Regions from separate parts of the Homo sapiens genome. Here region 2 is linked to region 1. The links come from fine-mapping of genetic effects on gene expression. Tissue or cell type: tibial nerve. Region 1 holds a variant in brackets; the other region holds the start of a gene. All regions are shown on one strand. Distances are between the middles of the regions.

The links. PIP is the estimated chance that this variant, and not a neighbour inherited with it, causes the effect.
Region 2: it holds the start of LINC00404, and the variant in region 1 is fine-mapped to the expression of LINC00404 in tibial nerve (GTEx, PIP above 0.99).

The regions. Positions count from the first base shown.
Region 1 is chr13:111,969,407-111,974,605 of GRCh38, reverse strand. SOX1-OT (SOX1 overlapping transcript) reads right to left here and starts at 2,296. Exons shown (of 4, transcript NR_120392.1): 1 at 2,213-2,296. The variant A/G (reference allele first, on the strand shown) is at 2,033.
Region 2 is chr13:112,103,383-112,108,507 of GRCh38, reverse strand. It overlaps LINC00404 (long intergenic non-protein coding RNA 404), which reads left to right and starts at 1,879. Exons shown (of 2, transcript NR_047014.1): 1 at 1,879-1,909; 2 at 2,270-2,413. SOX1-OT (SOX1 overlapping transcript) reads right to left here. Exons shown (of 4, transcript NR_120392.1): 4 at 493-796. RefSeq lists enhancers at 491-1,109, 1,730-2,349, 4,211-4,830.

The DNA.
Region 1 (5,199 bases):
ACGACACCCACATCTGTGTACACACACTCACATGGATACCCACGCACGTGTACACATATGCACACATCCATGAACACTTGTGCACACACCTAGCGCACAAACAGGCGTGCACCCGTGTATGCCTTACGCACACACAAGCAGGCACCGTCAGTCCTGTGTAGTGTGGGGTCACCTGTGAGTCACCCCGGGAACACGCAGCTCCACAGGCGGCGCCCATCTGTTAAAATTTTGAAAAGACAGCCCACACTGGCTCTGTTGAGAGCGGCTGCCTCTACGTTCTTGCTGCCCCCTCACAAATCAGACACTGCACATATGTTGTGATAGCAACTGTTACTCTTTGTTTATTCCCTCTATAAATAAACTCGGAGCTGCATCAGACCCTGTGAATATTTTTAGAAAGTTTCGGGCATCACAGCGGAATTCAGCATCTTGCCCATTCATAAGCTTTCTGTGCTTCAGAAAACCAAACACGCGACAGATTCCCACTGACATTCTGCCAGTTTGATCTCTAAATAATTCAGCATTAAAATCTGGTCAGCTCTCCTACCTCCCCGAAAAACTCCTGCAAACACTGTGCCAATTAAGTTGCTGAAAACAGCAGATTTGCACTGATACCATCCAGATAAAGCTGACCATTAAATCGCAATTTAACATCCCCGGGCAGCAGTGGCTGCTGACAGCCTCCAAAGCTTGCAATCTCATTTAACCCCCTCCTGTCAGGAGCAGGCCCGCCCTCTCAGCATAATGCCGCCAAATTAGACCTGACAGGGCAACAAGAGAAAGAAAAACCTCTTTAGCTTAAAAGTCAGGCCACAGTGGGCAACCCTGACCTTCAGCGTCCCCTGCTCAGCCCCCTGGGTTCTCCAGGGACCCCGGAGACATTTACGCAGAGAGAGGAGGAGAGAGATGGACAGAGGGGAGTGGGGCGGGGGCCCCGGCCACAAGGCACTTGGATTTCCCAGGGGGCAAATTACAGAGAATTTTCCTAGACAATGGAAGAAAATTTCACCTGGGCTTTTTCAAGTCTTTCTTTGGTAATAAAAGATGAACCCTGATGGTTCTGTTCAAACTACTGTGGCTCAATATTTCCCTGTGCCTGTAGTGCCCTCTGACTCCGAAGCCAGGGGACGCCTCTGTTGGAACACAGAGCCCCCTCCATGCCGCAGACGCCTGCATTTTAGATGAGGCCATCTTAGCTGGTGGCTGCAGCCTTCAAAGCCCTCCCCATAACTGGCATTTACCAGAGCTCTGTTTTCATAAGGAAATCAGGCTGCCTCCGAGACCCCTGACCACACGCGCTCTCGCCGCTGTCCTTTCCACCCGCTCCACCTGTTCTGCTAAGAGAGGGTGCGGGAAAAGGAACGGAAGGAGGGGAGGGTCCCGGCACAGCCGATGGGAGACGATTTTCACAACAGTCAGGAGGATTTCTCCAAATCCAGACGGAGCTACTCTCAGAGAAACGGCTACCCCACGTTTCACACCCGACAAACGAGGACAGAGGCAGTTGTAACTAAAATGACTTCCATGTATATTCTAGTTCAAATCAGTCATTAATCTAACAGAGATTCCTTTGCAAACACACACTTTTTGTTTTTTCTCCTGTACAAAGAAAAATGCTTTAAGGCCAAAAGTTAGAAGGGTGTCACCCATCAGTTTTGTAACACATCCTGGACCTTAAGAAAACCGAAGGCAATACCCCACTCTAAAATCCTGTCCGTCTCTTCTTCCTCCTCTTCAGTCCTCTCCTTGCCTGAATTTCATAAATAGATTGTGATTGCACAAGTCAAAAACTTCTCAAAGTCGAGCTTAAAAGAGACAGAGAGTCAGAGACAGAGAGAGAGAGGGAGAGAGAAGTCCTCCTCCTCCTGGAGTCACTCCCTCTTTAGGCAGCGGTTCAACACCTGTAAGAAGGCCTTTTTAAAAAGGAGAGAAGAGCCAAGCTGCTTGCAGGAACAGAGCCCCAGGCGTCAGCGCAGTCTGCTGCCCACCTCTGCGGTGCCCCAACCTCCTGTGACTTACCGTCCGGGCTCCC[A/G]GGGCCACACCGCAGGAAGGACTTCCTAGCGCTCCTGGAAACCGCTGCCCTCCACGCCGTGGTCGCGACCTGCTGCAGAGGCCGGCTCTCGGGGGCTACTGACCCACTCAAGTTCCGAAGTCTCCCCCCTCCATTTTTTCCCCTCCTTAAGTTAGACGAAATGGCTATAGCAGAACCCACCTCAATGTTTATTTCGACTTCCCGGGGCTGCAGTGGAGTGAAGTCCTGCCTGCCCACGCTTTTCTGCAATGGAGTGGTTTATTTAATTTGTCAGAATAATGGGAGCGGCTGAATGAGAGACAGAGAATGCAGTGTGGTATAAAAGAAACAAAGGCTAAAAGTACCACTATTTTGATTCCCTTTTTAAAATTACTTCCAAAGTGTGGTATCTATTGTGAAGAATAATGCTGAACAAAGCAGTGTCTTGGCAAGATTCACAGAGCTTATTCACCCACAGCCAGTTCTGCCTGCGCATTCAGAGGTAGGACACACTTATAAATGATGTATTGGAAGGACCATAGCTCCTATTGTGTTCTCAGTGTAAACAAAAAGGCAGACAGGGGCTGAATGGTGTGTAGGCAGTGAGGCCACGCTGCAGCCAGCCATCCCCGGTTCTGGAGAGGGAAAACTGAAGTCAGCGGAAGCCCCAGCAGAGTCAGTTTGTTGAAGGCTCATCCCCCACTTTCTCCTCTTTGTCCATCAACCCTAGTCAGGGGCTGGAAAGGCTTCTAGAAGGTTCTCCTGGGAAGCACTGCCTGGAACATCCCTGCCACTCACGCTCCAGGTGGACGGTGCGTCCTGAACCTGACGATTTCCAGAATCTTTCAGTGAGAGGACACTAGTCTCCCCCGATAACAGCAGCTTCCACGAGTTTCAGCAAACTTCATGACGGCCTCTGTGCACTGTGCGCAGGAGCTGGGGGTGGGTTCCTGCAGCCTCCCAGGCCAGCCCCTGACAGCTGGAGGAAGTTCTGTTGTTACCGAGGCAGGCATGAGGCTTTCTCTCTGGCCCTAGAATCTCTCATTCTGAAGGTCCTGCAGTGGATCCACCTGGGGCAGCTGGATTCTGCATTCCCCTGCAGGTGGGCAATGCTTTCTGGTTTAATCTTTCAGCTCAGAGCCTAAGTTTTTTTTTTTTTTTTTTTTTTTTTTAGACAGTTTCGCTCTTGTTGCCTAGGCTGGGGTACGATGGCGCAATCTCGGCTTACCACAACCTCTGCCTCCTGGGTTCAAGCCATTCTCCTGCCTCAATCTCCCGAGTAGCTGGGATTACAGGTGCATACCACCACGCCTGGCTAAGTATTTCTTTAGTGAAACAACTTCACTGCATTTGTCAAAAAAGGGCCCTGCTGTTTATAAACTGTAAACTTCAACTTCCCTTGTCCATTTGATGTAAAAGCACATTTTGAATATTGGTTTTCTTCTGGTAAAACATTTTTAGACACTCTTGCCAACGGGCAGAAACAGTTTAGTTCTGCAACTCTGATTCTTGTCCTGTTGTGGGTACACACAGAGACTGCTGTCTCTCACCCACGTGTCTGCTCACATTCCTGGGGGGAGACCTCAAACCATCCCCACCCCCGTAACAGCACTCCCACGGTGGGGATGGACCACACCTAAAATGGAACTGTTTGCCTGCTTAGTCAGGAAATATACCGAAGAAGGGTGTGGGGTTTTTTGCAATGCAAGTTGCTGTTTGACTGCACGGAGCGTTTTGGTTACGGGAGGGAAGCGGCCAGCATGGGGCTGTGTCTGTGGCGCAGGATATGACTCCAGTGCTCCTGGTGGCTTGCAAGGATGCACCAAGGCCTCGCTGTGTCCCAAGTGGAGGCTCGCCCAGGCCCCGTGGTGCAGAAGGTCCCACAGTAGCCCACGTTTGACCGATGAGCAGAGGCTTCCCGAGGCCACATGGCCCAGCTTAGCAGGGATTGTGGAGCACCTGGCCCCAGCACTGTAACAGCCTGTGTTTACTTTATCTAGACACCTGGCACCACGTTTTCATTTTCCATTCCAACTTAGCAAATTAATATTTCTTACCTTAAGCTGAAAAACCCAACAGCCCATACCTCTTGCGGTGTTTCTGCCATGGCAGCACACGGGGCTCTAATGTTTTAGGGGTCTGTGTACCCTTCGCCCACTAGTGTGCTCCCCGCCTGCTGCCAGTGAGTCTCGGTGCGACTGAGTGGAGAATGAGGCCACCGGAGTTTCTGCAGCTCGGGACGCACCTTCCATCACGTGCACGTCTCACAGGACCTTCCTGTGCAGCTCCAGGAAACCACACCAATTCCATAAAATACGGACACAGTCACCTTGCTGCTGAATTTTTGTGACTTAGATTTTGTCACGGGACATTTGTAAAAATCCCTTTTAAAATTATTTATTTCCCATGACGGAAAGAGAAATCAATACCAGTGTATAGATTTTAAAGTTGGGATTCTTCAAACAGCTCTAAAGGCAACATTTTGACACCTTCTGGAGAGTTCTGTGAGTGTAAAGTTTACAAGACTGACATTGCAGTGAAATACTCTAAACATCTACTCAGGAAAAAATGAACAAGTGATACAATGTGTTGACACAGTGAAAGTAAACAATACAATACAACCACAGGTCAGGTGTGCTGAGCCCTGCACTCCAGGCCTGGCTGTGCCAGGAACCTGTGGCCAGCCTGAGAGAGCCTCAGCTTCCTCTTTAGAAATGGGGACCAGAGTGTTGCCACTCAAAAGAATGAGGGCCGTGTGGTAGAGCTGGATCGGGGTGTACCACATTGTACCTGCGTGAGCAACCCCAGGACTCTGCACTTGGAAAGGAGAGCGTGAGCCCCGCCAGGCTGGCACTGAGGCAGCAGGTGCAGTGGTGGCTCACTTCCACTCTTCTGCAGCCTTCATCCAGGCCTCCTGCGCTGGGGTCACCCCTCTGGTCACTGGCAGTGCAAAGGCTGATGAGGCCCCATCTACCGCGTGAAGAGAGCCCATATTTCGAGTACTTGACTGAAGCTTGGACATTTCCAGTTTTTGTAAAAATTGCTGCGATGGGGTCCCTATGACTAAAGAAAGGAGTTGATTAAACCCACACCATTGGCTTTCTCTGGGAGCCCTGGGGCCTCAGGGGCCATCGGGTTCAACCACTTCACTCCACAGATGGAGAGACTGAGCCTCAGGAGAGTGAGGG
Region 2 (5,125 bases), 130 kb before region 1:
GATTTTGAAACCCACAATTAGCCAGGCACTGTCCCCTTGCCCCTGGGGAGACATCAGTGACCCGGACTGGCCATCAGTGACCCAGGCTGGCAAAAACTCCCTCTCTATGCAACTTCCTGGGATTCCCCTCCCACAGCCACATCTCCAAAAAGCCGGCCTCTAGCTTGGAGCCCTGTCCCTAGCCTTTGGCAGCCTTGTCTGCAGGTGGGGTGGCAGGAGCTGGGGCCAGAGGATGGGGGCAAGGCTGCCCAGGCCCAGCCAGGGGCTGGCACACATGAAGAACCTCCTGCTGGGTGTGATCTGTGACTTTCCAGAGCCTTCAGGCCACATCATACAATGCTCTAGGAAGGAAACAAAATGGTGTCCCAGTTCAAAATTATCCACATTTACCAAGAGTCCCCCGCTTACCCCGCCCACCCCGTAGCTTTTTCCTGGGTCTAGATGGCGCCACTTTCAATCCCGCCCCCCACCAAAAATGACACACCCAATAAATAGATTTCCTCCATGTATTTCCCTGTTGTTGTGTTTACAAAAACATTGTTGGTTGCACTACCCCTTCACATCCTACCCCCTCCTTTTGTCAGAAGGAGGGCAGGCATTTCGGGGGCCTGGGCGCTCAAGGAAGGCCTCGCGGGTGCAGGAGAGGCCTTGGGGTGTGCAGGGGAGAACCTGCCCCTCTGCCGTCTTCGACCTTAAAGTTTAGTCCTCGGCTCTGGTCTGGTGGCTTTCTCTTGCCTTCTCCTAGGAAGTTTTCCCAGCCTCAGATGCGGCAGAGAGGGGACAGCAGCTTGGAGTCCTGTGAGGAGGTGGAAGGACACGTTAGTGGAGATCCTGGGCCTGAGGAGAACTAGCATTGCTCAGGGGAGGAAAATTGCCTCTGCTGGCGCCTGCGGCCTCCCACGAATCTGAGAAACACTACTCCACCCGCCTCTGCGTCCCTCAGGCCCTAACGGTGGTTTGCGCTCCTGGGTTCTAGCGCCCTTGGGTCTCGCTCGCTGGTGCCCGCCCTGCACCCGGGGCATCAGGAGCACCCCTCCCCACCATTCAGATTCTAGAGGAACGAGACCACTTGGGCAGGTGCGGGTAGGGGACCGGGCGTGGAAAGCGGGAGTGCAAGCAGGTCCTCAAGTCACTGAGACTCTCCTCACCTTGGGGTGGGGACTGGAAGTTTGTGAGCTGCTTGCAATCCTGCAGTTTGAGGAGCGTGGCCTGATGTTTTAACTGTTTTGCTTTAGGGCGCGCAGCCTCTCTGACATGCATTGTTGTGAGTTCACCCTAAAGGGTATGACTTCAGAAACGATCACTGCCGCGATCATTAAAACAGAAGATGATGTCTATGAAATTCACTCGACTTGGTATCTGGGCCTCTTTCAGTGAATTTAAACTCGCAACATTAAAGCAACTCTTGGGAGAAAACGGGAATATGTCCAAATCTCAGGTCATTCAAGTCAGACATCCGCGCTCAGAACCCCAAGGAAGGCTTTTAAAGTTGCGGAATGCACCAGAAGGAGAGCAGGGATCCCCCGAGGCCCCACTTGCGAAAGACCCCCCTCCCTGGGCCCCTCCTCCTCTTCCTACCCCTACCAACGTTGGAGGGGGTCTGGACTTTGAAACTTGTCACGGGGAAAAGAACCTTCGCCGAGAAGGCTGCTAATGAATTCAGACTGCATAGTTCTCAAAATCTGATGTTTTGCAATGATGACATTAGCGTGGCGGCCGAGGGTCCGAGCCCAGAAAGTCTGCGCAGCTGCTCGGCGCTTTGAGCGCCCGGGACAATGGGCGCAGTGTTCGGCCTCGGCCTCTCCAGGCCATTTGCATACCCCGTTCTGCCTGAGTGACCGGCGGAGCTGCGGCAGGGAGCAGCATTGTCCACGGGTCACTTCAAGATGAGCGAGATGACAAGAGCCAGGTGAGCGATGGGGCGGGACATTCCCCAGGTCACGAGAAGAAAACGCGGGGAGAGCCTTGGCCAGAGCTTGGGTTTGTTGATTCTCGAGGTGGGATTTGCTCGTTTGCTCTTAAAGCACTCATCAGATGTTGTAGGGGGAAATTCGAGATTTAAAGATTTTTAACAAGAATTTACAAAGCCTCATTTTGGGAGTAATTTGGGGTCTTCCTTTTTCTGAAAAATCCAGTGATCTTATGGCATTTTATTTCATTGTATTCTTTCACTCTTCGAAGTTTAAGAGTTCCACCGCCAAAGGGAAGCAGTTTCATTCTCTATAGCCAAAAGCTGTCACCAGTTGAGTCTGAATTTGTTATTTTCCAGAAACACCATTTTGAAAAGTTGCAACTGAGGCCCCTTGGCCGGCAAATCTGAGCTGCAGAAGCGCCTGAATTCCGGACGTTAAACCTCCAATCACCAGCCAGGGCAGCTCCGGCTGGGACAGCGCGGGCGCGCGGCCCCTCCACCGCCGCCAAACGGAGCGCGCTTGACGCCCCCGTTTTGACTTCAGCTCAGAAAGACAAGTCTTTGTAATGCAAGTTCCTCTTCCCTAGAGAGTTGACGCACCACCTGCCACCATCTCTACCCCTAGCCCTGGAGCGGCCTGCAGAACTGGGACTCTTCTCTTGTGGATTTCAATCGTGGGGCGTGTAACTGTTGCCAATAATTTTCAGAGACCTGGATCCTTAAGGAGGGGATCCTGGGGGAGGGACCTGAGGTGGGAACGGGTGGGTGGGACGAAGGACGAAGCCAGAAAAACCGAGACAACAGGAGGGAGGCAAGGGACCGAGGGCAACGTTTCTCCCAAGTGAAACACGCTGCATTCCGGCACCGACGGCTCCTCCGGCGCCTGGGCCCCCCCAGGCCCCGCCGCGATGCACCCAGGGCCTCCCGAGGCCGCGCTCCACCCAGGCTGCTCCGGGTCCGCAGCCCCACAGGCCCTCCTCCCCTCACCCCTCCTCCTCCCTCCGCCTCCCGCACCCGCGCACCACCCACTCGAGCGAAAAGCAAGTCAAGCAAATCCTGGGGAAGGCGCCCCACAGCCCTCTCCCGCGGGCACCAACACCTGGGCACACCGCGTCTCAGGCGGTAGCGGAGCTGGCCCACACCGGCCCCGCCAGCGCCCGGGAGGCGTCTCCAGGTCCCTACCCGCGTTCGCTGCGGATTGCAGCGACGCTCATCTCGGGAATATAACGATTAATCCAACCGCAGGTTTCCAGATAAGTGATTGTGATGGAGACTGTTGGCGAGAAAATAGACAATTATCCGCTGTTAGCTTTACATAAAGATCGCATTAACTCAAATTAGTTATCAGACAAAAGAGCGTCGGCGCGCGCGCCCTGCCTGCCCCGCGCCCTGCCCGCGGGGACCCCCGGGCACAACCAGGCCCAGGGCACGGCAGGCAGGGCCGAGGCCTCGGCAGGGCGCGAGGAGAGGGGGCATGCACTAGGGGGCTCCGAGCTCTGGCCCCCGCGGGGACTGCGTGTTGCGCCCTCCTAGACGCAGCGCGGGGCTCCAGACGGGGACAGGGTGGCTGCCCGAGCGCTCCCCGCCCCCCAGCGCTCCCCTCCGCTGCGCTCCGGCTCCCCGCTGCTGCGCCCCTCCCGCCCTCGCGTCCCGCTGCCGCAGTCCCTCTTCCCCCGCGCGCTCCGCGAGGCGCTACCCTTTTCTTTCTGGCGCCCGCAGCACCAAGTTGCTGGTCCCTGAGCACGAGGAGACGAAGTTAATGACTCCGGGAGGGAACTGCCCCTCGACCCCAAACTCGCAGCGAAAGCGTCCTCGGCCATGCGAACACTCTTAGACTACCGTCCTGTGCCCCGCCGTCCCCACTCCACGCGTGCGGTCACTGTCCCTCCCGGGGTCGCTCCCTGCGGGGCCGCGCTGCCACTCGGACAGGAGAGGGGACCAATGGGAAAGGTGGGCTGGGGAGAAAGGGCGCAGAGCGACCCTGGAGCTGGGTGTCCATGGCCTGGGGGCACCGGCTGAAACGTGGCCGTACAGCCTGGACGCCGACAGAAGTTGCGCACTGCCCACGCGCCGCGTGGCCTACTGGCGTGCTCTTTCTCCCGTGTCCCCACTAGGGTTGACACCGGCCCGCCGGAACACAGATTTGTGCAAACGCACAGCCCAGCGCCCTGAGCCCCGGCCTGGCCGCAGCGCCCAGCGGGGTTCCCCCCTGTCGCCGGCGCGCGCTGGCGGCGGTGCTCCCGCCCGGGCTGGCCTCGCTCGGCCCCCAGGGTCCCCGGGCCCCGCTGAATAGGGCGGATAATGACCCCCGGTTCCCAAGGCAGGCTTTCTGCGGCCTGGTGAGCCTTGGACTTGTGTGGTCTAAGCCTTTCCCAGCTTGTCCCATTCTGTCACCGGGATAAGGGGCTCCCTCGGCTCGTTTGCACCTGCGTCGCTTTTGGCTCCTTCAGGAATGCGCTGAAGCTTGTAATCAGCTTTGTGAAGCCATTGAGTGCACGGCTGAGTGAAACTTCCAAAGCTCGAGGAAAACGGGCCGGCTGAATGGGAGCCAGCATGGGGCTTCTCTCCAAGCCTCCGCGCTGCCAAATTCCAGCAGAGCCCCTCACAATCGCTCCGCGCGGGCTTGACTGCTTTCCCCACACTGAGAAAAGTGAGAAAAGAAAAGCGAAAATACCAGTCACCGAGGTTAGCCGCTTGTTCCCAGATTAATGGCAAACGGCCCCCTCCTCCTCCCCGCGCCCCCGCCCCCGCCCCCCTCCTGCATAGCGTACGGATTCAGGAAACACGGCAGAGGGGAGGGGAGGACAGTTATTCATAACTCCCCATCTGATTTCATATTTTCTGTCCCCTGCCCAGGGCGGGGTCTTCGAGCCAAGCGCGCGGTCCCCCCGCCTGCAGGTGCTGAGCTGGGCTGCCGCGGGCCCGTGGCCTGGGGAGGTCTAAGCAGGCTTGGCTGCACGCCTCGCTCCAGTAGAGGAGTCAGATGAAGCCAAACCTAAGATTTCCCAAAACTAGCCCTGCAAAGCCTTCACAGTACTCCTAACAGGAAACAAAAACAACAAACCAGCCCTGGGCCTCCAGTGACCTCCATCCCCACATCCACTCAGCAGGGCTGGCGCCTGGAAACAGGCACTTCTGGATTTCAGGGGCTTGGGAAGGAGGAGGTACAGGGAAGGGAGGACTTCTCTGACACCCAGGGTGTGTGTGTGTGTG